4 separate regions of the Homo sapiens genome follow, and all the other regions are linked to region 1. Evidence: fine-mapped expression QTL. A gene starts in region 1. Each other region holds a variant in brackets. All regions are shown on one strand. Distances are from middle to middle. Region 1 holds the start of OR2W3 (olfactory receptor family 2 subfamily W member 3). Region 2 overlaps OR14A2 (olfactory receptor family 14 subfamily A member 2). Region 3 has its middle 3.6 kb from the start of OR11L1. Region 4 overlaps LOC102724446 (a long non-coding RNA gene).

Evidence for each region. PIP is the estimated chance that this variant, and not a neighbour inherited with it, causes the effect.
Region 2: its variant is the best candidate, but not a certain one, in a credible set for the expression of OR2W3 in testis (GTEx, PIP 0.58).
Region 3: its variant is the best candidate, but not a certain one, in a credible set for the expression of OR2W3 in sun-exposed skin (GTEx, PIP 0.71).
Region 4: its variant is the best candidate, but not a certain one, in a credible set for the expression of OR2W3 in breast (GTEx, PIP 0.66).

Annotation. Positions count from the first base shown.
Region 1 is chr1:247,891,967-247,898,282 of GRCh38, reverse strand. OR2W3 (olfactory receptor family 2 subfamily W member 3) reads right to left here and starts at 2,696. Exons shown (of 1, transcript NM_001001957.2): 1 at 1,752-2,696. The coding sequence starts at 2,696. The coding sequence ends at 1,752.
Region 2 is chr1:247,732,794-247,739,109 of GRCh38, reverse strand. It overlaps OR14A2 (olfactory receptor family 14 subfamily A member 2), which reads left to right. Exons shown (of 5, transcript NM_001355292.3): 2 at 3,554-3,626; 3 at 4,685-4,924; 4 at 5,727-5,827. It overlaps OR14K1 (olfactory receptor family 14 subfamily K member 1), which reads right to left and starts at 495. Exons shown (of 1, transcript NM_001004732.2): 1 at 1-495. The coding sequence starts at 495. The variant C/T (reference allele first, on the strand shown) is at 3,056.
Region 3 is chr1:247,842,333-247,848,648 of GRCh38, reverse strand. No RefSeq gene overlaps it. Among named protein-coding and RNA genes, the nearest start is that of OR11L1, 3.6 kb to the right of the region's middle. The variant G/A (reference allele first, on the strand shown) is at 2,968.
Region 4 is chr1:247,623,461-247,629,776 of GRCh38, reverse strand. The region is part of intron 2 of LOC102724446 (a long non-coding RNA gene); the gene reads left to right. Among named protein-coding and RNA genes, the nearest start is that of OR14L1, 9.5 kb to the right of the region's middle. The variant T/C (reference allele first, on the strand shown) is at 3,073.

The DNA of each region.
Region 1 (6,316 bases):
GGGTGCTCTGGAAGCACAGGAATCCCCCTCTCTGGGGCTCTGGTTTGTTTACACTTACACAATGCCCTGGGGCTGGTGACTTTAGATGTGAGGTGTGGAGGTGAGGAGGATACAAAAGAGCGCAGAAATACACTTGTGGAGGAGGAGGGAGCCGAGCACAGGAGCAACGGCAGAGGAATGAGGACCACCCCTCAGCTGGCCTTTCACACCACTCCCTCTCACCTTGTGTTCGCCCTTGGTCTATGAACACTCTCCCAACTTTTTCCAGAATGTGTCCACCCTCCAAATGCCCGGAACAAGAGCAGGGGGTGATATACTTCCTGGGTTCTTAAAATGTAGTCCGAGTCCCCAAAGTAGGGACATCACCTGGGAGGTTTGCAGAGTCGCAGAAACTCAGACCCCTCTTATCACCAGCTGAATTGGAATTGCATTGGAACAAGACCTCAGATAACTGGAGGGCACGTTAGTGGGACACATTGAGGACTGCAATGTGTAAGGAACAGTAGCCAGTCATGCCCCTTAGCCCCAAAGGGTCTTTGACATTGTGTGCCAAATGCTTAAGGATTTTTGCTCTTTGAAATTTCATGATGCAATAGAAACCATATGAATCGGGAGTCTGACAGAACTTGGAAAAAACCCTGGTTCAGTTCCCCTCGAGCAAAAGATTTAACCTTCAGATCTCAAGGACCAGGGAGATAAAATGGGAATAATGATAATCATGCTGACCTCATACAAATACTGAGGTTGCATGACTTAGGAGCGTCTGGTACACAGAAGGGACTAAACCAATGTCAGGTTCTTCTTACTAATAATGAAAAAAACATGCCTGAGAAAGAATGATGCTTTAAGATTTAAACAACCCATGCATCATAACTTACAGGTTCACTTCTTGGTTTATGCAGAATCTTACACCAGATAAAGGGTAAAACAAACTCTACGATTTCATGAAAAGGTTTGGGTAGGAATTGGGAATATAGAAAATATAAAACTGTGCTGCATTCCATGATTTGATGGCCCTAAACAGAGAGGCACTTGGACCACGTGGAGAACAGTGATGCATTTGGGGTCATTCTGACTGAAACATGTCAGGTGTGTTAGACTTTAAAGCAAACAACAACAAACAAAGCAAAGCTCTGATTGAGAAGAGTTATTTCCTCTTAGCACTCTGGTATAAGTAGGTGGAAACTCATCTTTACAACTGTTTGTCTCACTTCATTCTTTGCAGCTGCTTTACAGATCATGATGGGTTTTGGGGATGATTTGTGTTATATAGTTCACACATAAATCACATAATGTTGGCCAGTCGCAGTGACTCACACTTGTAATCCCAGAACTTTTAGGAGGCCATGGCAGGGGGATCACATGAGGCCAGGAGTTTGGGACCAGCCTGGTCAACACAGCAAGACCCCGTCTCCATAGAAGACAGAAAAGCCACAAGCCACAATTCCCACTGCCAGTGATGCACACCTGTAGTCCCAGTTACTTGGAAGGCTGAGGTGGGGGAGGATCGCTTAAGCCCAATAGTCGAAGGAGCTATGGTGGCACCACTGCACTCTACCCTAGGTGACAGAGTGAGACCCCGTCTCAATTTTAAGAGCAACAACAAAAACACATAATGTCAGAACTGAAACAGCCTCACAAAAGTCCAGAAAAAGGCAAGTTGGGAGTCGTGGGCTAATATCAGCTGGAATTCAGCCGTTCCAGATGCTGCCAGTGGCCCTGGATGGAAGTGAAGTCAGGTGGAGATGCCTTTACTCCTTTCCTAGCTCTCTCTTCCCCAGAAGCAACCTTCCCAGTGCCCCCTTCACCTCTCTGTTTCTGAGGGTGTAGATGAGAGGATTGAGGAGGGGGGTGACAATGTTGTAGAAGAGCATGAGGAACATGCCCTGGTCCTGGGAAGAACTGGCTCCTGGCTGCATGTACATGTAGATGATGTTTCCATAGAAAAGGGAGACCACAGTGAGATGGGAGCCGCAGGTGCCGAAGGCCTTCTGCCTTCCTGATGCTGACCGAATTTGTAACACAGCCCTCACAATGTAGCTGTAAGAGAGCAGGATAAACACCAAGGGGGACAGCACAACACCCACCGCCAGGACAAAGACGGTGCCTTCGATGGCCACAGTGCTGACGCAGGCCATCCGGATCAGGGCGGGCATCTCACGCAGGAAGTGGTCCACCTCGTGGTGCCCACAGCGGGGTAAGCGCAGGGTCACAGGAGACATGGCCAAGGAGTTGGCCACCCCACAGCCCCAGGTCACTGACACCAAGCCCCGGCAGAGCCTGGGGTTCATGATCACCATGTAGTGCAGGGGCTTGCAGATAGCCACACACCGGTCATAGGCCATGACAGCCAGAAGCAGGCACTCCACACCACCCAGACCCAGGAACAGGAAGAGCTGGATGGCACAGCCCATGTAGCTGATGGTCTTGTCACATCCATTAAGGTTGTAGAGCAGCTGGGGGATGGAGCTGGTGGTGAAACTGAGGTCCAGGAAGGAAAGGTGGGCGAGGAAGAAGTACATGGGGGTGTGGAGGTGGGGGTCCAGCCGGGACACCAGGATGATGGTGGTGTTGCCTACGAGGGTCAGGAGGTACGCGATCAGGATGACCACAAAGAGGATCCTCTCCAGATGGGGTCGGTCAGAGAATCCCAGTAGGATGAAATGGGTTTGGGTGCTGCCATTGGTTCCATCCATCTCTACTGCTGCTGAACAGAAATATCAATCCTAATAATAATAATAACAGCTGATATTAAGGGAGAACTTACTAGAAGCTAAGCATTCTTCTATGCTTTTTATATTTATTTTATTCATTCAACCCCAACAGTTATATGGAGTTGCACTATTATTATTAGCTCCCAACTTATAGAAAAGGAAACTGAAACACATGTGTGTTGAGCAAACTGTGATATGTAGGAAGACACAGAGCTGATTCTGAACCCCGGCAATGTAGCTGAGAGTGTGCAATCTAAACCACCAGTAGCACTGCCTCCAAATCCAGTGAAGTGAAGGCAAATCCTGCTGTGGCCAAACCACGAATTTTTCTAGAGACTCCAGTCCCTAGGCTCCTGCCAAAAACCTCAAGGACTCAAAATGGAGCCTCAAAATAATCCATCAATAGTATTTAGGAAATACTCTTTACACACAGAGTACTTTATCTATTACTGGTCTCAAAGACACACCTCATTCATTGGGTTACCATTACTGAGGTAATTTTTAAATTACCTCAGAATTTAATTTAATTTAATTTTAAAATTACCTCAGTAGATAAATAATGTAAGAGACAGGCAAAATACACATAAAATCTCTTTTTTTCTCTCTGTCTTTTAAATGGGCCTGGTATTGAACAAATAGAGTGTATGGGTTTTTCTTCCAAAGTACTATATACTGCTTGAGAGGATAAAAGAGATTGAAAAAACTTTGTAACAGATATTACAACTGTAATGCAAAATTCACGCATATGTACAGAAACCTCTATCACGTTCCAACTCTAATACCACATCACATTCAAAGCAAAGCATATTTGATAAGACAAACCACAAGTCTTACAGATGGATATAGGGAGACTTGGTCCATCCTGGTGTTTGGGTGATGGATGCATTAAAAGCCAAGACTTCGCCACTGTGCAATACATGCAGCTAAAAAGCAGTACCCCCAAATTAATATAAATAGATATAAGCATGTATGTGCAGGTAAAAAGCAGTACTCCCAAATTAATATAAATAGATATAAGTATGTATGTGCAGGTAAAAAGCAGTACTCCCAAATTAATATAAATAGATATAAGTATGTATGTGCAGGTAAAAAGCAGTACTCCCAAATTAATATAAATAGATATAAGCATGTATGTGCAGGTAAAAAGCAGTACTCGCAAATTAATATAAATCCATACGTGGAGGTAACAAAACAGTACTCCCAAACTAAGACAAATAAAAATAAATACATGCGAAGATGGCCGAATAGGAACAGCTCCGGTCTACAGCTCCCAGCGTGAGCGACGCAGAAGACAGGTGATTTCTGCATTTCCATCTGAGGTACCGGGTTCATCTCACTAGGGAGTGCCAGACAGTGGGCGCAGGCCAGTGGGTGCGCGCACCGTGCACAAGCCGAAGCAGGGCGAGGCATTGCCTCACCTGGGAAGCGCAAGGGGTCAGGGAGTTCCCTTTCCCAGTCAAAGAAAGGGGTGACGGACGCACCTGGAAAATCAGGTCACTCCCACCCGAATATTGCGCTTTTCAGACCGGCTTAAAAAACGGCGCACCACGAGACTATATCCCACACCTGGCTCGGAGGGTCCTACGCCCATGCAATCTCGCTGATTGCTAGCACAGCAGTCTGAGATCAAACTGCAAGGCAGCAGCGAGGCTGGGGGAGGGGCGCCCGCCATTGCCCAGGCTTGCTTAGGTAAACAAAGCAGCCTGGAAGCTCGAACTGGGTGGAGCCCACCACAGCTCAAGGAGGCCTGCCTGCCTCTGTAGGCTCCACCTCTGGGGGCAGGGCACAGACAAACAAAAAGACAGCAGTAACCTCTGCAGACTTAAATGTCCCTGTCTGACAGCTTTGAAGAGAGCAGTGGTTCTCCCAGCATGCAGCTGGAGATCTGAGAACGGGCAGACTGCCTCCTCAAGTGGGTCCCTGACCCCTGACCCCCGAGCAGCCTAACTGGGAGGCACCCCCCAGCAGGGGCACACTGACACCTCACACGGCAGGGTATTCCAACAGACCTGCAGCTGAGGGTCCTGTCTGTTAGAAGGAAAACTAACAAACAGAAAGGACATCCACACCAAAAACCCATCTGTACATCACCATCATCAAAGACCAAAAGTAGATAAAACCACAAAGATGGGGAAAAAACAGAACAGAAAAACTGGAAACTCTAAAACGCAGAGCGCCTCTCCTCCTCCAAAGGAACGCAGTTCCTCACCAGCAACAGAACAAAGCTGGATGGAGATTGATTTTGACGAGCTGAGAGAAGAAGGCTTCAGACGATCAAATTACTCTGAGCTACGGGAGGACATTCAAACCAAAGGCAAAGAAGTTGAAAACTTTGAAAAAAATTTAGAAGAATGTATAACTAGAATAACCAATACAGAGAAGTGCTTAAAGGAGCTGAAGGAGCTGAAAACCAAGGCTCGAGAACTACATGAAGAATGCAGAAGCCTCAGGTGCCGATGCGATCAACTGGAAGAAAGGGTATCAGCAATGGAAGATGAAATAAATGAAATGAAGCGAGAAGGGAAGTTTAGAGAAAAAAGAATAAAAAGAAATGAGCAAAGCCTCCAAGAAATATGGGACTATGTGAAAAGACCAAATCTACGTCTGATTGGTGTACCTGAAAGTGATGCGGAGAATGGAATCAAGTTGGAAAACAGTCTGCAGGATATTATCCAGGAGAACTTCCCCAATATAGCAAGGCAGGCCAACGTTCAGATTCAGGAAATACAGAGAACGCCACAAAGATACTCCTTGAGAAGAGCAACTCCAAGACACATAATTGTCAGATTCACCAAAGTTGAAATGAAGGAAAAAATGTTAAGGGCAGCCAGAGAGAAAGGTCGGGTTACCCTCAAAGGGAAGCCCATCAGACTAACAGCGGATCTCTTGGCAGAAACCCTACAAGCCAGAAGAGAGTGGGGGCCAATATTCAACATTCTTAAAGAAAAGAATTTTCAACCCAGAATTTCATATCCAGCCAAACTAAGCTTCATAAGTGAAGGAGAAATAAAATACTTTACAGACAAGCAAACGCTGAGAGATTTTGTCACCACCAGGCCTGCCCCAAAAGAGCTCCTGAAGGAAGTGCTAAACATGGAAAGGAACAACCGGTACCAGCCGCTGCAAAATCATGCCAAAATGTAAAGACCATTGAGACTAGGAAGAAACTGCATCAACTAACGAGCAAAATCACCAGCTAACATCATAATGACAGGATCAAATTCACACATTACAATATTAACCTTAAATGTAAATGGACTAAATTCTCCAATTAAAAGACACAGACTGGCAAGTTGGATAAAAAGTCAAGACCCATCAGTGTGCTGTATTCAGGAAACCCATCTCACGTGCAGAGACACACATAGGCTCAAAATAAAAGGATGGAGGAAGATCTACCAAGCAAATGGAAAACAAAAAAAGGCAGGGGTTGCAATCCTAGTCTCTGATAAAACAGACTTTAAACCAACAAAGATCAAAAGAGACAAAGAAGGCCATTACATAATGGTAAAGGATCAATTCAACAAGAGGAGCTAACTATCCTAAATATATATGCACCCAATACAGGAGCACCCAGATTCATAAAGCAAGTCCTGAGTGACCTA
Region 2 (6,316 bases), 160 kb after region 1:
ATTCAGAGAGAATGTTCCAGCTGTGTACAAGAGTCCCAAGGCCCCTCTGTTGAGCCAGGACAGAGCCATCAACTGGACACAGAGCCCTCTGCTCATGACAGCCTCACAGTGTAGGGGGCAGCAGATGGCAGCATAGCGGTCATAGGACATGGCAGTAAGGATGCCAATCTCTGATCCAGCCAGCAGTACCACCAAGAAGAGCTGCAACACACACCCCAGGAAGGAGATGGAGTCAGTGGAGGCGACAGAGTTGAGGATGGATTTGGGGACTGTGGCAGAAATGAGACACAGGTCTAAGAAGGACAAATGTCGGAGGAAAAAGTACATTGCCATGTGGAGACGATGGTCCAGAATCATGAGGAGAATGATGACTAAATTCATCAGCACAGCCGTGAGGTAGATCAGTGAGAAGAGCAAAGCATGCAGCCTCAGGAGCACCCAATTCTCAGTAAATCTCACAAGCAAGAATTCCATCATCTGTGTCTGATTGGTCATAGTTCAAAATTATAAGCGCCCTATGGAGTAAAGGAAAATAAGTGTCATACTAATATTAAAAAGTATCATTTGTTTCTTCATTTGTTGAATGAAGGTATGTGTAGCATCAAGGCCTAGACAAAAAGTTTAAAAATATCAAGCAATTTATATTTCTCATGGACTCAGGTGTAAAACAACTGTGGGTATATCAGTCTAACACTTAGTAGTCCTGGACTAAGATTTATTGTGAAAGAAGCAAAGAACTTCACTTCTCTCCCTCATTACTTGAAATGACTTTTGAGTGATTTTATTTCCTTTGGGAATTACAGGGTTGGCTATGCAATTATATATAAAACTGCAATAGGGCATACATTTTCATGTATAAATATCCCGGTTAATGTAGTTTTGTGTGTATTAAATGTTGTGAATGAAATTTCTGCTTGCTACTTACTGCAATATTTAAAATAGTCATTATCCTCAGGTGATACTCTAATTTACTATCCCCTTCTCACTGAAGGATGTTAAGATTATTCTCCCATTTTTGCATTAAAGTTTACTCCTTTGGTGAAAATGTGATTATAGTATCATTTTTTTCTTTCTTTAGTCCATATACATAGCATAGCACAAAAATTAAAAAGTACTCGTTATTTTCACAAATCAGTTTTCAAATATATAGTGTCATTTTTCATGAAAAGAACAAAAACCTGAGACTTAGCCAGATGATTAACATAATATTCTAGGAAGGATTTAATTAAACACAGGAAGCGACAGACAGGGATATCTACTGCATCTAACCAGAGATGCAGTGTGTCCTCTTATGTGATAGACATTCAGAGATTGTCATCTGAGATCCCTCGCACACCCCAACGTGAGGGAGAGTTTTGGCCATGTTTTTCCCTCAGATCATCTTGTCTTTAGAACCTCTCTTGATTTTACTTTAGTATCACTTCAATGGCAATTTTTTCACTTTCCCCTTTGGTTTCCAGGCCATCTCTAAAACACACAGAACAGAAAACAGGATGGACGGTTTGCTAGTTTGGAAGTAGCTCTTAGGGTATGTAGACACTGCTCTAGGTTTTATTCTCCCCAGCAGGTCAAACAGAGGAGGCTTTAAGTTTGGGGCAGCCATGAACTTGCTCATGTTGAGCTATAAGTCAGGCTCTCCATTATTGCTCTAAAGCTACTGCCAGTGCTTTTTCCAACAAGAACACCCAAAGTTTGCAACATAGCATGAGATTTCCATTTGCTCTTGAGTCTTTTCAACTTAAAAAATATTTTATTTTTGTAGACACAAGAGAGTCTCACTTTGTTGTTCAGCAGTTTTTCAACTGAAAGAGAATGTAGCAGACCATTACAACATACATTCTCCTCCTTCTCTATACACACATATGCACACACACACAGCCGAGAGGATGAGCAAGAATAAACAGAGCTTTTCCAGGATGAGCAGTCGTACCTCTAACCTTCATAGAATATGTCCATTTCAGTACAAGTGATTTTCTGAGAACTAAATTAACAAGTGATTTAAAGTTGAAAAGGGACCAGGCATGGTGGCTCATGCCGGTAATCACAGCATTTTAGGAGGCTGAGGCCAGAGGATCTCTTAAGGCCAGGAATTCGAGACAAGCCTGGACAACAAGATGAGACCCCTCTATGTCTACAAAAATTAAATAAAATAATGTTTTAAGTTGAAAAGACTCATGAGCAAATGGAAATTTCTTACTATGTTGCAAACTTTGGGCTTTCTTGTTGGAGAAAGCACTGGCCCTAGCTTTAGAGCAATAATGGAGAGCCTGACTCATAACATGAGCTAATTCATGGAAGCCCCAAAAGTAAAGCCTCCTTTGTTTGACCTGCTGGGGAATAAAACCTGGAGCAGTGTCAAAATACCCCAAGAGCTACCTCCAAACTAGCAAACCATCCATCCTTGTTTCTGTTGCATTAGCCTGTGTGTTTTAGAGACAGCCAGGGTAGCTCAGTGAGTGAGTGAGTGTCCTTTTGAGTTCCTTCCACCCCAGTGATGTTTGACTCCAATGCTAGATTTTTATCCCTTCAGTCTCATTTTTGATTTATATTTCACCTTATTTCACATGCTTACATATGAAATGAGTGATAGCATTAGTTTAAAAGTCTGTGTGCTTTTCTTTACAGATAACATTAATAACAATAAAGCTTTGCCTCATTATATTTATATACTTATTTGGTCCAGGGAAATTCCACATGATTAAATAAAAATATGCAATCTGAGTCTCAATCAATCTAAAACTGGGAAAATACATATAATACACAAAATAATCCTAAAATCAAGGGGTATCTAAGAAGGCTGGGAAGATAGGGTAAGTTCAGGTTTATATGTTTCTTTACCATTTCTATATCATATTAACAACAAATTTTATCACTTTTGTCAAGAATATGAGGAATGGAGAGAATGAGAGAGCAAAGGGGAAGAGGAGAGGAGAGGAGAGGGGAGGGGAGGGGAGGGGAGGCCTATATGGAGTCTTCAGCTCCGGAAAATGTTTCCATTCTCGAGTAAGATCAACAGAAGCAACATTCATAACAAAGGCTATATGGAATCTTCAGC[C/T]CCGGAAAATGTTTCCATTCTCGAGTAAGATCAATAGAAGCAACATTCATAACAAAGGCCGGTGAGAATGCTTTCCCAAACAGTTCTATATTTATTTCAAAATAATTTCAGAAGAGAAGAAAATAAAAATGAAATGTCTAAGTAATTTAGGACTTCTTTTCACAGTTTTTGTTCAAAGAGAGCTCTAGTTTTCAATTCTTAGGGAGATCTAGTGAATGCTGCAAACAGTTTCCTATATGCTTACCGATTCCTGCTTCAAGACCCCAACTCCCCGGGTTAAACTCACGACGATTTTGATTGACCATTTCTGTCCTCTACGTATCAGTATTTATTTCTTTTGTGCAGTCTCCAAGCTCTGCTTGATGTCCTCTGTATTAGGCACTTCCTTCTTCAAGAAGGAGCAAGGCTTTTAAAGCAGCTTTAAACAGACTTTCATTGACTATATGGGACTCTCCTGGGAGGTCACACTTTTACTTGTACTTATATTTTATTTCATAGGTTTTAAGCCCTGGAGACCCAGCTCTTCACTCTCACCTCAGATCTGAGACGTGATGCCACACCTTTTCCTCCAGTGAGTCAGAAAAGGAGATCTTTCTGGGTCTCATGAGAATAAACCTTTATTTATTGCATCCATAATATGTGACTAATGGATCCTAGACATTCATTTGCATGTGACACCTTAAATTTTGGTGTGTGTACACAGACTCTTTAAATTGAGTGTAATAATCTCAGTCCAGTTTCAACTGAGAAGGACACTGGGAGATGCAGTGCTCTGACTTTGGGGTCTGAAACATGGATTTGTTTAAGTCCTTGAGCCATCACACTTCCCTTGGATCTTTCTTTTCTCCTCTCACTCTGGATTTAAGCCTCCAGGGAAGATGACGTCCCTTCAGATTCTCACAAATGACGAGAGATGCCTGTATAGAAAGTTCCCAAGAGCACCGAATTTTCAACATCTGTTTCATTCTTAAGTGATGCCAGGGGCATCCTCATGAGCATCCTACGAGTTCAGGCTTCCCTTGGAAGCAGCAACAAAATGAAACTCAGTGGGGTCTTCTCCAGGGTTGGGATGAGGTACAGTTTATTTTCAGATTTTGATCTTGTAATATTCTTATTATATTCACGTAATTTCCAGTTATTTGCTCGCTAGTTTGCTTTGAATGACTGACTTTCTAGATATCCTGGTGGGGACAGCCTCTATGCTGCCTAGAGCTTGTTTCTGTCATCCAGCAACCTCTTGTGGACACCCCACATTCATTGCGAAGTTGACGTTTAGATTAGACCTTCTTCTTCATCATTTTATGACATTTCGTAAGAGACATATGACATCCAGCCCCATAGGACTTCATTATCTACATTTTAAAAATTAGCTTATTGATTTTTAAGGTATTCCTAGGGATTTTGACAGGGACTGAATCTAGATCAATGTAGAAAACACTGTATTTTTAGCAACATTGAGTATTTTGAGCAATAAAGATGGTATATCCCTCCATTTTTAAGTCTTTAAAAGATTCTCAGAAACATTTTGTTATTTCAGTACATATCAGTACACAACCCCCAAGCTCATTTTGTTAAATTAATCAGTAGATACTTCATGAGTTTGATCCAAATCTGTATTTGTTTGTTTAGGCTGCCATGACAAAATACTACAGATGGGGTAGCTTAAACACGTCGTCTGTGAGTGGGTGTTTCTCACGATTCTGGAGGCTGCACATCTGAGATCAAGACGTCAGCTGCCTTGGTTTCCTCTGAATCTTCTCCTCGGGCTGCAGATGGACACTGTCTTGCTGCCTCTTCCTCTGGTCGTCTCTGTGCATGCGTGCCCCCAGGGTCTCTGCGTGCCCTAATCCCTGTTCTAATAAGGCATCAGTAAGTTTAGATTGGGGACCATCCTAATGGCCTCACTTTATCTTAATAAGCTCTTTAAAGGATTTTTCTCCAAATACAGTCAGATTCAGAGGTCTTGGAGGTTAGAACTTCAAAAGATGAATTTTGGAAAGACACAGTTCAACCTGTAACATAATATAAATGATATTGTTTTTGCTTTCCATTTCCATTTGTTTTTTAATACCATGTAACAGCCTTATTTTTATCATGCAACCTTCTTAACTAGCATAGTAGCTCTGGTAGCTGTTTTGTAGATTTCTCAAAATGTCTACGTAGATACTCATTTTGTGAGGAAAAGTTGCACTTCTTCATTTTTAATGAATTTTCTTTTTCTTTTTCTTACCTTTTTTCACTGCTTGGGGCTAAATAGAGGTGGTGAGAGAATAATCCTTTTTGATCCAGATCTACAGAATAAACATTCTGGCTTTCAGCATTAACTATGATATTAGTTGCAGGGTTTTGTCTTTTGTTCATTTTGTTGGCTTTTGTTTTTGTTCTTCTTGGTTTTGAGTTAGCAGATAACTTATTCAAAAAGAGTATTGCAATAGAAAGAATTTCCCCAAGCATGATACCTGTAGTCCTCTAAATGGTCAGGCAGAAAGGGCTTTTGTTATATAGGGAGAGTGAGGAAGGCTAGAAAGGACAGGGAGTGAGGGAGTAGAATGAGCAGATAGCATGATTGAACAGATAAACAGGAAATGTCTTTCCTTAAGTTTCAGAAGGTTTGTAAAATAGGAATTGTTCCATAGTCCAATGCATTTCTTTGGTTTTTGTTTCTTTTCAGATGCCTTTTATCAGTTTAAGAGGTTACCTTCAATACCAGGTTACTGAGGATTTTTGTCACAAATTTCTTCAAATCTTTCAAATCAGTTTTCTGATAATGAGGTAAGTGTATCTATTCACTTTTCGTCTTTAGTCCACTATTATGGAAATTAATCCTTAAATCTAGAGAGACAGGTGAATATAGAGAGTCACAGCTAAGATCTGCTCACTAGGAACGAAAGCCACAGAAATAATAAACTGGAAGGGTCACAAGTTTGATGAATTTCCGAATGCTCTCAGGATGGTGTAAGAGTAAGAAACTCCTGAGGGCCGCAGTCTCAGGGGGACCTCGTACTTTCATTGGTTTTATATCTAGGAATCCCACTAAGGCTTTCAAATAAAAAGCCAAGAAAGAATCTCTCCTGGATTGGCAAAAGGGTGGAAAAGTAACCATAGCATGCCCAGAGCCTTCCCAGATCAAAGGACCACTCCAGGCAAAAAGACTTTACTACAAACATATCCTGCCTGGGGGAAGGGCGTGCTGAGTCTGAAAGAAGCCAGACTTTCAGACTTGCTTCTTCACTTAGCAAAATGCATCCAAGATTCATCCAT
Region 3 (6,316 bases), 50 kb after region 1:
ACACCGGCAGAAGATGGCAAATTTCAGATCTCACAATGAAAGCACAGTAAGAGTTTGGGTTACAGGAGGGCACGGGTAGACATTGCCTAGAGCAGGGGCCATTTAGCGCTCTGGACGCCGGGAAAACAGACAGGTAGGGGGAGTTCATGCAGAGAAGAAGAAAATCAACGTGGTGTGTATTTTACTGTCAAATAACATAAATGTCCTTGTTTTGATTGTGTATGTTAGATTCTAAAAATACATCGACTTCAATAAATTATTCATCATTATCAAGGCAATTTTAGCCTTTGCAGATTCTCTATCTTTATGGAAACAGTAAATGATCTTGCCTAAATTATAAAACTGTAATAACAGACAATTAATCAAGAGTTCTCGAGAAGTCAAAAGGCCATTTAGTTTACTCTGGGCAAGATTGCATCTAAGAACAACAACATTCTTTTTTTTCTTTTTTTTTTTTTGAGACAGAGTTTTGCTCTGTTGCCCAGGCTAGAGTGCAATGGCATGATCTCGGCTCACTGCAACCTCTGCCTCCTGGGTTCAAGTGATTCTCCTGCCTCAGCCTCCCAGGGAGCTAGGATTACAGGCATCCGCCACCATGTCTGGCTAATTTTTGTGTTTTTAGTAGAGACGGGGTTTTACCATGTTGGCCATGATGGTCTCAAACTCCTGACCTCAGGTGATTCACCCTCTTCGGCCTCCCAAAAGGCTGAGATTACAGGCGTGAGCCACTGCCCCCAACAACAACATTCGTAATTATTTTTATTTCAAAGAAAGCTACAAAGTTAAATCTGAGGTTACCCTTGTTGCCCTAGAGCTAAAGCCAACCCAGTCTTTTGGGAAGCATTTTTTTTTTCCAGCTCAATGTAATTAAAGTAATTCTAGCACTTGGAAATAGTCAGTATTTAAGTAATCAGGCCCAGAGCACCTGTAATCCTAGCACTTTGGGAGGCCAAGGCAGGAGGATCACTGGAGCCAGGAGTTAAGGGCCAGCCTGGGCAATATAGCATGACCTCTACCTCTACAAAAAATATGTGGATATATAATTAACCAGTCATGGTGGCACACACCTGTGGTCCTAGCCACCCTGGCAGGAGGACACTTGAGCCTATAAGTTTGAGATTACAGTGAGCTATGATTGTGCCACTGCACTCCAGCCAGGGCAACGAAGCAAGACCTTGTCTCTTAAAAAAAAAAACAATCAGTATTTCAAAAGGTGGTGAGCTCTTCATTACTGAAAGGATTTAACCATGAAGCGATGATTATACAACAGTTCATTTTCCTTGTGCATTTGGATATGAATTGTGGGAGGTACTTTAGAAAACTAGGATCTGAGCCCAGTGTCCTGTAAACTTAGCCTATTGTAATAAAGGGCTGTTTTGTTTTCACTGTGGTCTCATCAAGGAGACCCTCATTGCGCTCCATGTTTAACTTATTTTTCTGTGGATGTTCATTTTAAATTGAATACCATGGTCATATTCTTATAAAATACTAAGTGAAAGCCAAAGCAAAAAGGAACCATTTTCCAAGAAAGCATTGTTGTTTTACCAAGAGTATTTATTATTATTATTATTATTATTATTATTATTATTATTATTATTTGAAACGGAGTCTCGCTCTATCACCCAGGCTGGAGTGCAGTGACGCGATCTCGGCTCATTGCAGCCTCCGCCTCCTGTGTTCAAGTGATTCTTCTGCCTCAGCCTCCTGAGTAGCTAGGACTACAGGTGCCCCCTACCACGCCTGGCTAAATTTGGTATTTTTAGTAGAGACAGGGTTTTACCATTTTGACCAAGCTTGTCTTGAATTCCTGACCTCAAGTGATCCACCCGCCTCGGCCTCCCAAAGTGCTGGGGTTACAGGCGTGAGCCACCGTGCCCGGCTGAATAAATAATCTATGTGAATAAATCAATCTATGTGGATCAAATAACAATTTTCTCACATCTCTTAGTTTTCGTTCAGTGTTTTCAAGCCAGAACTGCTGGAATATTTTGCCTTCAAACCAACATATACTTAACACTTTTATCTTGACTCTTATAAATTCTGAGAATGGCAGAAGAGTAGTTAGATCAGGCCTAAAGAAGAAGGTGTTATCTGAGCAGACTGGAAGGACATGAGAAATGAGCCATACAAAGCTGTTCAATGACAACGTTGCAGGGAACTAAACATGCTAAGGAGAAAACGAGGCACGTTTCAGGTAACTTGAAGAATACAAAGGAGGCGGAAGCACTGGGTGCAGAACGGACCAAGAAGAAAGTAGACTAAGAGTTTGGTGAGGCTGTGGGAGGAGAGAACAAGCAGGGCTGGGTAACCTGTCAAGGCTTTGTTTTTGTTTGTTGGTTGGTTGGTTTTTTGTTTTTGTTTCTTAAGCTTTATTGAAGAAATCAAGTACTATATAGTTCAATATATATGACACATTCAGTATTATACTCTTTTTAGCATGTGCAATAATGTTAAGATATTATTTTCTCTTGATATAATTATTTCCTGGCTACATGAAAATAATATTCCCAGTGACTTGGCCAAGAATGAGAGGAGAACGTAGAACAGAGCAGAAATAGTGAATTGCAACAGACATGAAGAACAGAAACAGCAAGTCAACAGAACGTCGATTCTGACAAAGCGGAAACTGCAGAGGTGAATATGTGGATTGTCTGGTCACAATGTTTTCTTCCTTTTCAGGAACAATTCACAGTACATCTGTGTTCACTGCAAAAACTCTCCCGTGTTTTAAAATATTCTCTTTGACTGCTTTCTTGAGTGGGGCAGGCTGGACGTGGAGGTGCTTTAACGAAACTATTGCAACAATCTAGATAAGAGATAGTGGTGCCTTTTCCAGGCAGCAAGCGATGGTGGTCGTAAATGGTGATCAGATCAGTTCTGAATACATTTTCAGGTGGAGCCAGTCAATTTTGCTGAAAAATTGGACATTGGGTTTGAAAGGAACAAGAGTCAAATTCAGAGTTTCTG[G/A]TCTGAGCAAGTGGGAGGATGGAGATGGGAAGGCTGCACTGAGGGAGGCTGGGGTAGTCAGGAGTGCTGGTCAGCTAAGTTAGGTCTCGTTAAATTGCAAATGCTGACTAGTCATGAGTGAGCATTTCACATAGGGCAGTTTTTACAGGACGCTTCTGTTCAAGCTTGAGACATAAATTTGAGGGCTGAGAGCAAAGTGACAGCATTCAAGTCAAGAGACTGCCTGAAACTGTGAAGGAAATGAAGGTAGATTGAAAGACACGAAGCCCTGTACAAGTGTGAAAAACCAGGGCTGTCGCTGATCTAAGAGAGTATGTAGTTGTGGATATTAAGTGACCAGTGGATCCAGGAAGAGGGAGGGATCAATGGTGCGATGATGCCACAGATGAAGAGGATCGGGAATGCGATGGGTGGTTGGAGGGCAATGCCAGCACAGCTGCGCCGTCTGGGGCAGTGGCAAGAAAAACATCCTGATCATAGTGCATTCCAGCGAGCAAGAAGGCAGAGGACGAGGAGCAGCAGGGAGGGACAGTGCCCTCCAGAAGGGAAAGCATCGGGAAAAGGGAGCAGAAAAGTGCAGGTAGTATTCAGAGAACAGCAAAGCCTCTAGACATTCTTCTCTGTTTTGTCTTTTTAAAGTGGGGGAGAGAAATCCAGCCCATTGACATGCTGAGGAAATGCTTTGGCAGAAAGGGCACCATGGGTGATTCAGGCATGAAGCTGAGAATACCCAGTGAAGGAGAGAAAAAAAGAATTTCTCTTCTCGACTTTCATTAAATTCACTGCTAGGACAGATTTTCATGAGCAAAACGCAGATCACCAAGAGAAAAACAAGCATGTTTATTTATGCATGTCATGCCCATCCACAAGAAAGAAAGCAGCTCTCTCAGGAAAACGGCTCACCTAGATTGTTGCGACGGTTTGGAAGCAGTGGCTTTGAGGCCTTGCTGAAATAGTATCTTAGCAAGGAGCCATACATCCTCTACGGTGACAAAACAAAAAAAACGGCATCTTCAGGCTTCCCAAAAGCAAGACATTTGGGAAGGAAAATTTACAGGAAGAGTAGTCTGTTCCGAGATCCCTGGCGTTGCTGTCTGAGCTGAGAAGCAAGCATTATAAAGGAGACTGTCTTCAGGTGGGAAGAGGCAGAGGGGAGGCAGGAAGACCTTTGTCTTTGTAAATCTTGGTCCTGCCTTCAGGAAAGCAGAGGAAGGGGCAGGTCCCCTGTGTGTTCGTCTTCTTCAGCTCAACACTCCTGAGTCTTTTGGATAGGAATAGTTTTGCCTCTGTCACCTGCAATACCTTTCCAGTGTGTAGGAGGTTATGGCGCCTAATGCCCAGGTGGAAGGATTTGCCTTAGACTTGGACACAGATAGTTTACTCAGAGGAAGTGTAGGGAGTAGGTGCACAGGAACAAAAGGTAGTCGATGGCAGAATTTAGTGGCCTGAGCTTGTGGATACTTCCACTGAAGGATTTCAGGATCTTCCAGTGAAATAAGTCTCTTACTGAGGGTACAGAGCAACAGGGATGTGCTAGACGTTCGAAAAGAGAGCAACATAAGTGAAATAGTCACTTAGGAGATTGGAAGAGTGAATAGATACGGGTATTGATAAAAACCAAAGTCTGTAACAAATATTTGAAGAGGTTTATTCTGAGCCAAATTTAAAGACCATGATCTGTGACAGTCCCAGGAGGTCCTGAGAATATGTGCTTAAGGTGGTTGTGTTACAGCTTGACTTTATCCATTTTAGGGAGACATAAGACATCAATCAGTACGTGTGAGCTATGCGTTGGTTTGGTCTGGAAAGGCAGGACAGCTCCAAGAATGGGGGAAGGTTACAGTCATACGTGGATGCAAAGACTTTTTGATTGGCAACTGGTTGAAAGAATTAAGTTATTGTCTGAAGACCTGGAATCAATAGAAAGGAGAATCTGGGTTAAGATAGGGGGGTTGGGGAAACCAAGGTTCTTATGATGTAGATGAAGTCTCATATGTTGCCAGCCTGAGAAGCAGCAGATGGGAAAAATGTTCTATTGAGACCTTTAAAAGGTGCTAGACTTTCAGCTAATCTCTTGAGGATCAGACAAAGGCCTGGAGAGGGAAAGGGATTCTCCGCAGAATGTAGATTTCCCCCACAAGAGACAGCTTTGCAGGGCCATTTTAAATATGACAAATAAATATATTTTGTGGTAAAATATTTCCATTTCCTTCAGGGTCGGCTGTCTGTCATGATGCTATACTAGAGTCAGGTTAGAATTTGGTAGCTTATTTCTACAGAGTCTGTTTCGTCAGCCTTAAAATCTCTTTTTTGATGTTATTGCTGCTCAGTTATGCCTGAATTCTGAAGAAAGGAGAGTGTAATGAGGTTTGTCCAACCCCCTCTTCCCATCATGATCTGAACCAGAATTTTTAGGTTTCTTTGAAATCCCCTTGGCTGAAAGGAGGAGTCCGCTCAGTCAGTTGTGGGGTTTAGAATTTTATTTTTGGTTTATAAGGGAAATACAGAATGATTGCTCTCCAGCAGTAAGGGCACACTGAGTTTGTTGGTTGTACATTTTAAAGAGGTTCTATTCTTGCTTGTCTCACTCCCTCAACTTCACAGAAGCTCCTGTATGGCAGGTGGATGTTTACTTTATCCAGAACTATAGACAATGAATTAAATGAAAGAATAAAAGGTGTACACGAGGGTGTAATTATAGTGGCTGAGCATGAGTATGGTATCGGATGAGGCAAGAAAGGACACCAGTGGAGTGAGGCAGATTAGTTCAGCACAGGCCTTCACACACACACACACACACACAAACACACACACACAAACACACACACACAGCAGGGACTAATAAATATTGTTTGAGGGTGGAATATATACACTTTCCCAAGATGGCATAGGAGATGTGCTGTGTCTGGCTTCTTTTTCAGACAAAGCCCACAGATGAGAAGGGAAAGGCATTTGCTTCCACATGTGCATGATTTTTTTTTTTTTTTTGAGACGGAGTCTCGCCCTGTCACCCAGGCTGGAATGCAGTGGTGCGATCTTGGCTCACTGCAATCTCCGCCTCCCGGATTCAAGCGATTCTCCAGCCCCAGCCTCCCACGTAGCTGGGATTACAGGCAGGCACCACTACACCCAGCTAATTTTTGTATTTTTAGTAGAGACGGGGTTTCACTGTGTTGCTCAGGCTGGTCTCGAACTCTTGACCTCGTGATACGCCCGCCTCGGCCTTCCAAAGTGCTGGTATTACAGGCGTGAGCCACTGCGCCCGGCCGTGCAGGATTTTTTTTAAAGCTTTGTTGTTATTGTTAGTTTTCTGAGTTTTTGTCCAGCTTTATTGAGGTGTAGTTGATAA
Region 4 (6,316 bases), 270 kb after region 1:
CAATGGGATAAAATGTAAGTTTTTTCTGCGGGGGGAGGACAATCTCTACTTATATGTGTTATAGTCTCTGCTCAAATACATTACCAAAAAGCAGTTCCATGCATGCCATCTAAACTAGAAACTGAGGGGGAAGAATAAGATGGCCAAATAAAGGGCTCTACTAATTTTCTCCCCTGCCTCTACCAGTTTCACATCTACACAAAACAAACCACCTTTATAAGAACCAAAATCAAGTGAGCACTCACAATACCTGGTTTTAACCTCACATTAATAAAAGAGACACTGAAGAAGGTAGGAAAGAAAGTCTTAAATCCTTGATATTACCTCTCTCCAGTCCCTTGGCAGTGGCCATGTGGTGTGAAGAGAGAATCTGTGTGCTGTAAGAAGGATAGCACAGCAACTGTGAGACGTTGTATTGAACTCAGTGCTGTCCTGCCACAGCAGAAAGCAAAACTGGACTGAACTCAGCTAACACCTTTCCACAAAGGAAGCAGATAAATCAGCCCTAGCTAGAAGGGAATAACACATGCCAGCTGTTGGAACTTGAGTTCTGGCAAATGTCGCTATGGTAGGCTAAAGTGCTCTGGGATCCTATAAAAACTTGTAAGGCAGTATAGACTGCAAAGACTGCAACTCCTAGGTGGGTCCTAGTGCTGAACTGGGCTCAGAACCAGGGAACTTGGAGGGCATATGACATACTGAGACATCATCTGGGGTGGCCAAGGGAGTGCTTACATCACCCCCGCAACCTTAGGCTGCACAGCTCATGGCTCCAAAACAGACTGCTTCCTTCTGCTTGAGGATTGAAGAGAGTAAAGAGAACTCTGTCTTACATCTTGGATACCACCTCAGTCACAGTAAGATAGGCCATCAGTCAAAGCCGTGAGGCCCCCTTTCCAGGCCCTAGTTCCAAAATGACAATTCTAGACACACCCTAGGCCAGAAGGAAACCTGAGGCCTTGAAGGAAATTACCCAGTCCTGGCAGGATTCATCACTTGCTAACTAAAGAGCCCTTGGACCCTGAATAACTAGGAGAAATACCCAGGTAGTATCTTGTGGCCCTTCAGTGAGACTCTGAGACTGGCTACCTTCAGGTAAAACTCAGCACCATCCCAGCTATAGGGGCTATGGAGAAAAACCCTTTCTACTTGAGAAAAGCAGAGGAAAAAGTAAAGGGGACTTTGTCACTGGTTTAGCCACAGGGGGCTAGAGAACCAAGCAGGTCCTTGGGGTCTTTGAGTCCAGGCTTTGGCTCTTCGATGGCATTTCTGGATCTATCCTGGGCCAAACGAGAGTCCACTGCCCTGAAAAGTAAGTCCTATCCTAGGCAGCATTTACCGCAAGGTAACTAAAGAGCCCTTTGGCCTTAAGGAAATACTTTCAGTATCCTGGAATACTCCCTGTGGGCCGTGGTGGTAGTGGTCACAGATTGAGGCTCCTCTGCCTGTGGAAAATGGGGGGAAGAGGGGATAGAACTGCATCTCGTGGTTTGAATGCCAGCAAAGCCACAGTACAATAGAACACCAGGTAGACTTCTAAGGATTTTACTCTAGTCCCTGGCTACTGAATGGCACCTCTGGACTTGGCAGGGGCCTGTGGGAAGTCTGTGCCCTGAGGGGAAAGACACAGGCCTGGCTGGCTTTCTCACCTGCTGGTTATAGAGCCCCAAGGCCTTGAGAAAACATTGGAAGTAGCCAGGTAGTGTTTATAGCAGGCCACGAGCCAGGCTCAGTCCTGTGCTGGTTTCAGGTCTGATCGAGAGCACTCTGATGCTTGTGGCCACAGGGGTGCTTGTGTCACCCCATTCCTAGCTCCAGCTGGTTCAGAGTAGAGAGAGAGAGAGACTTCATTTGTTTGAGAGAAAGTAAGCGAAGAAAACATGAGTCTCTTTCTGGTAATCCAGTGATTTATTCCAGATATCACTTAAGACCATCAAGGTGGTATCTCTATGAGTCTACAAGAACCACAGGATTACTGGCCTTGGGTGCCCCCTAAAGCCAACACAGCTTAGATCACAACACCCAAGTCTTTTTTAATACCTGGAAAGCCTTCCCAAAAAGGATGGGTGCAAATAAGCTCAGACAGTGAGCAGTACAAAAAATAACTAACTCTTTAATGCCCAGACACAAATGAACATCCATCCACAAGCATCAACATCATCCAGGAAAACATTACCTCAGCAAATGAACTAAATAAGGCACCAGAGATCAATTCTGGAGAAACATAGATATGTCACCTTTCAGACAGAGAATTCAAAATAGCTGTGTTGAAAAAAACTCAAAAAAATTGAGAATAACACAGAGAAGGAATTCAGAATTCTGTCAAATAAATTTAACAAAGAGATTGAAATAAAAACAAGCAGAAATTCTGGAGTTGAAAAATGCAATTGACCTACTGACGAATGCATCAGAGTTTTCCAATAGCACATTGATTAAGCAGGAAAAAGAATTAGTGAGCTTGAAGACAGGCTATTTGAAAACAGAGGAGATAGTTTACTCCATTTTCATACTGCTATAAAGAGCTGCCTGAGACTCAGTAATTTATAAAGAAAATAGGTTTAATTGACTCACAGTTCAACATAGCTGGGGAGGCCTCATGGAGGAAGGGGAAGCAAGGCACCTTCTTCAAAGATGGCAGGAAGGAGAAGAGTCAAGCAAAGGGGGAAGAGCCCTTTATAAAACCATCAGATCTCATGAGAACTCACTCACTATCATGAGAACAGCATGGGGGAATCTGCCCCCATGATTCAATTACCTCCACCTTGTCTCTCCCTTGACATGTGGGGATTACAATTCAAGATGAGATTTTGGTGGGGATGCAAAGCCTAACCATATCGGGGACAAAAGGAAAAATTATAAGAAACAAAGAAGCATGCCTACAGGATCTAGAAAGTAGCCTCAAATGGGCTACTCTAAAAGTTATTGGCTTTAAAGAGGTGGTAGAGAAAGAGATAGGAGTAGAAAGTTTATTCAAAGGTGTAATAACATAGAATTTCCCAAACCTATATCATTATTCAAGTACAAGGTTATAGAACACCAATCAGATTTAGCCCAAATAAGACTACCTCAAGG[T/C]ATTTAATAAACTTCCGAAGGTCAAAATAAAGTATCCTAAAAGCAGCAAGAGACAAGAAACAAATAACATACCATGAAGCTCAAATACATCTAGGAACTGACTTTTCAACAGAAAGCTTACAGACCAGGAGAATGGTATGACATGTTTACAGTGCAGAAGGAAAAATACTTTTATTCTGGAATACCATATCCAGGGAAAATATTAGTTAAATATGAAGAAGAATTGAAGACTTTCCAGAAAAACAAGAGCTGGCGAATTTCATCAACACCAGACCAGACAATAACTACAAATAAAATAAAATACCAAGGAATTAACCACAGAAGTGAATGATTTCTACAATGAAAACTATAAAACGCTGATGCAATAAATTGGAGAAGACACAAAATACTGGAAAGATGTTTCACGTTCATGGATTAGGAGAATAAATATTGTTAAAATGTCCACTCTATCTAAAGTAATATACAGATTCAATTCAATCCTTATCAAAATACCAATGACATTTTTCACAGAAATAGGAAAAAAAGTCCTAAAATCTATGTGGAACCACAAAAGACCCAGAATAGCAAAGATTTATTAAGTAAAAAGAACAAAACTGGAGGAATCACATTATTTGACTTTAAGTTATACTACAGAGCTTTAGTAATCAAAACGGCATGGTTCTGGTATAAAAACAGACACATAGATCAGTGGAACAGAATAGAGAACCCAGAGATAAATCTATACATCTACAGTGAACTCAATTTTGACAAAGGTGCCAAGATCATACATTAGGGAAAGAACACCATTTTCAATAAGTGGTGCTGGGAAAACTGGATATTCGTATGCAGAAGAATAAAACTAGACCCCTTTCTCTCACCATATAGAAAACTCAAATCAAAATGGATTAAAGACTTAAATGTAAGACCTCAAACTATGAAAATACTAAAAGAAAACATTGGAGAATGCTCTCAGACATTGGACTGGTTGAAGATTTATTGACTAATACCTCAAAAGCACAGGCAACCAAAGCAAAAATGGACAAATGATCACATCAAGTTAAAAATCTCTGGCACAGCAAAGGAAACAATCAACAAAGTGAAGACAAAACCCATAGACTGAGAGAAAATATTTGAAAACTACCCATCTGACAGAATATATAAAGAGCACAAATAACTCTCTAGGGACAAATCTAATAATCTGATTTAAACATGGGCAAAAGATCTGAATAGGCATTTCTCAAAAGAAGACATAAAAATGGCAAACAGGTATATGAAAAGGTCCTCAATATCACTGATTGTCAGAGAAATACAAATCAAAACTACAATGAGATATCACCTCACCCCAGATAAAATGGTTTTTATCCAAAAGTCAGTCAGGCTATAACAAATGCTGGCAAGGATGTGAAGCAAAGAGAACCCTTGTACACTGTGGGTTAGAATGTAAATTAGTAGAATCACTATGGACAACAGTTTGACAGTTCCTCAAAAAATTAAAAATAGAGTTACCATACAATCCTGCAATCCCACTCCTAGGTACGTACACAAAAGAAAGGAAATTAGTGTATTGAAAAGGTGCCTGCACTACAATGTTTGCTACAGCTCTGCTCACAATAGTTACACAATGGAAGCAACACAAGTGTCCAACAACAGATGAATGGATAAAGAAAATTTGGTAACTATACACAATGGGGTTCTAGTCAACCATAAGAAGAATGAAATCCTGTCATTTGCAACAACATGGATGAAACTGGAGTTCATCATTTTAAGCAAAATGAGCCAAGCACAAAAAGACAAACTTCACATGTTCTCATTTATTTGTGGAAGCTAAAAATTAAAATAATCAAACTCTTGGAGCTAGAGAGTAGAAGCATGGTCTGGTAAGGGTAGTTGGGGGAAGTGGGGAGGAAATAGTGATGGTTGATGGGTACAAAAATAGAAATAATTATTAGGACTTAGTGTTTGTTAACACAACAGAATGACTGTAGTCAAAAATAATTTAATCATACATTTTAAAACTACTAACATATTATAACTGGATTGTTTGTAACACAAAAGATAAATGCTTCAGGTCATGGATACCCCATTTACCCTGATGTGATTACTATTTATTGCATGCCTTTATCAAGATATCTCATGTATCTCATATATATACACCTACTATATACCCATAAAAATAAAAATTAAATCAAAAATTTAAAAAACTGGAATCCAATACTACTTCATTCTCTATCCTCTTACCTTTCTCTATGCTTCTTCATTTAACTACAATTCCAGACAATAAATTATGCATTATTTGAATTGGTTTATTTATTATTTCATCAGTGGAAAAAATTGTTTCTTCTCTCTGCTACGGTAACTTTCTCCCTGATTAGCTTAGTGCACAGTTATCAATCAATAAATATCTATGAATGAACATATCCATTTAGTATAAATACATTCACTTTGACTCTGAGTCATAGTGCACACACACACACACCCAAGCACGCACACACGTGCTACTTCGACAGAAAATAATCAAATATATTTACAAAGTAATTATAAGTTGTAAAGCTAATACAGTTATGGTTTTTTCATCTGAGGAAGAAAATTCAAGACAAATTTAGGAAATTGTTTTCCAGTGTCAAGATTTTTGGATGAAAGATACTAGCCAGTTCACTTCCTTCTATCCTTCTATTAAACCAATGATATACAAATAAATGAATTACTTTTGCCAGTTTTTATATCTGCAAGATAAATCAGCAGTAGACAAAACGAAATTTCTTTTTTTCTTAGAATCAATAACTCTTGTTAAAGGAGATGGTATTTCTACTAAGGGATAAGTGAAAAGCTCAGGAAATGCTCAAATGAGGGCCTTTATAACTTTTATATATTCCAATTTTAAAGATGTCTTCTAGTTCTTATGAACACACAAACACACATGCACACGTGTATACACAGATACACACATGTACGCACACACAAACACACACACACTAACTGTGGTGGGGAAATTGACAGATATGGAGAAGATGCATTCATCCAAGTTTAATGGTTTTCTTAAATCTTGAAAAGTAAATACTGAAGTTATGGTTAATTAATTTACACCAATATATTCTCCAGTGAAAGTTAATTTCAGTTATATCTCTGCTTTTTTCTAAAGCAAATTAGTGCTTCAATAAACATTCTTAAAAATGCTTTCTCATGTATGAAAGAGTTTTCCGAGGTGTATGCCTGTACGTGGAATTGCTGAGGCACAGATGTAATGCATGAGATAGATGCTATAAGT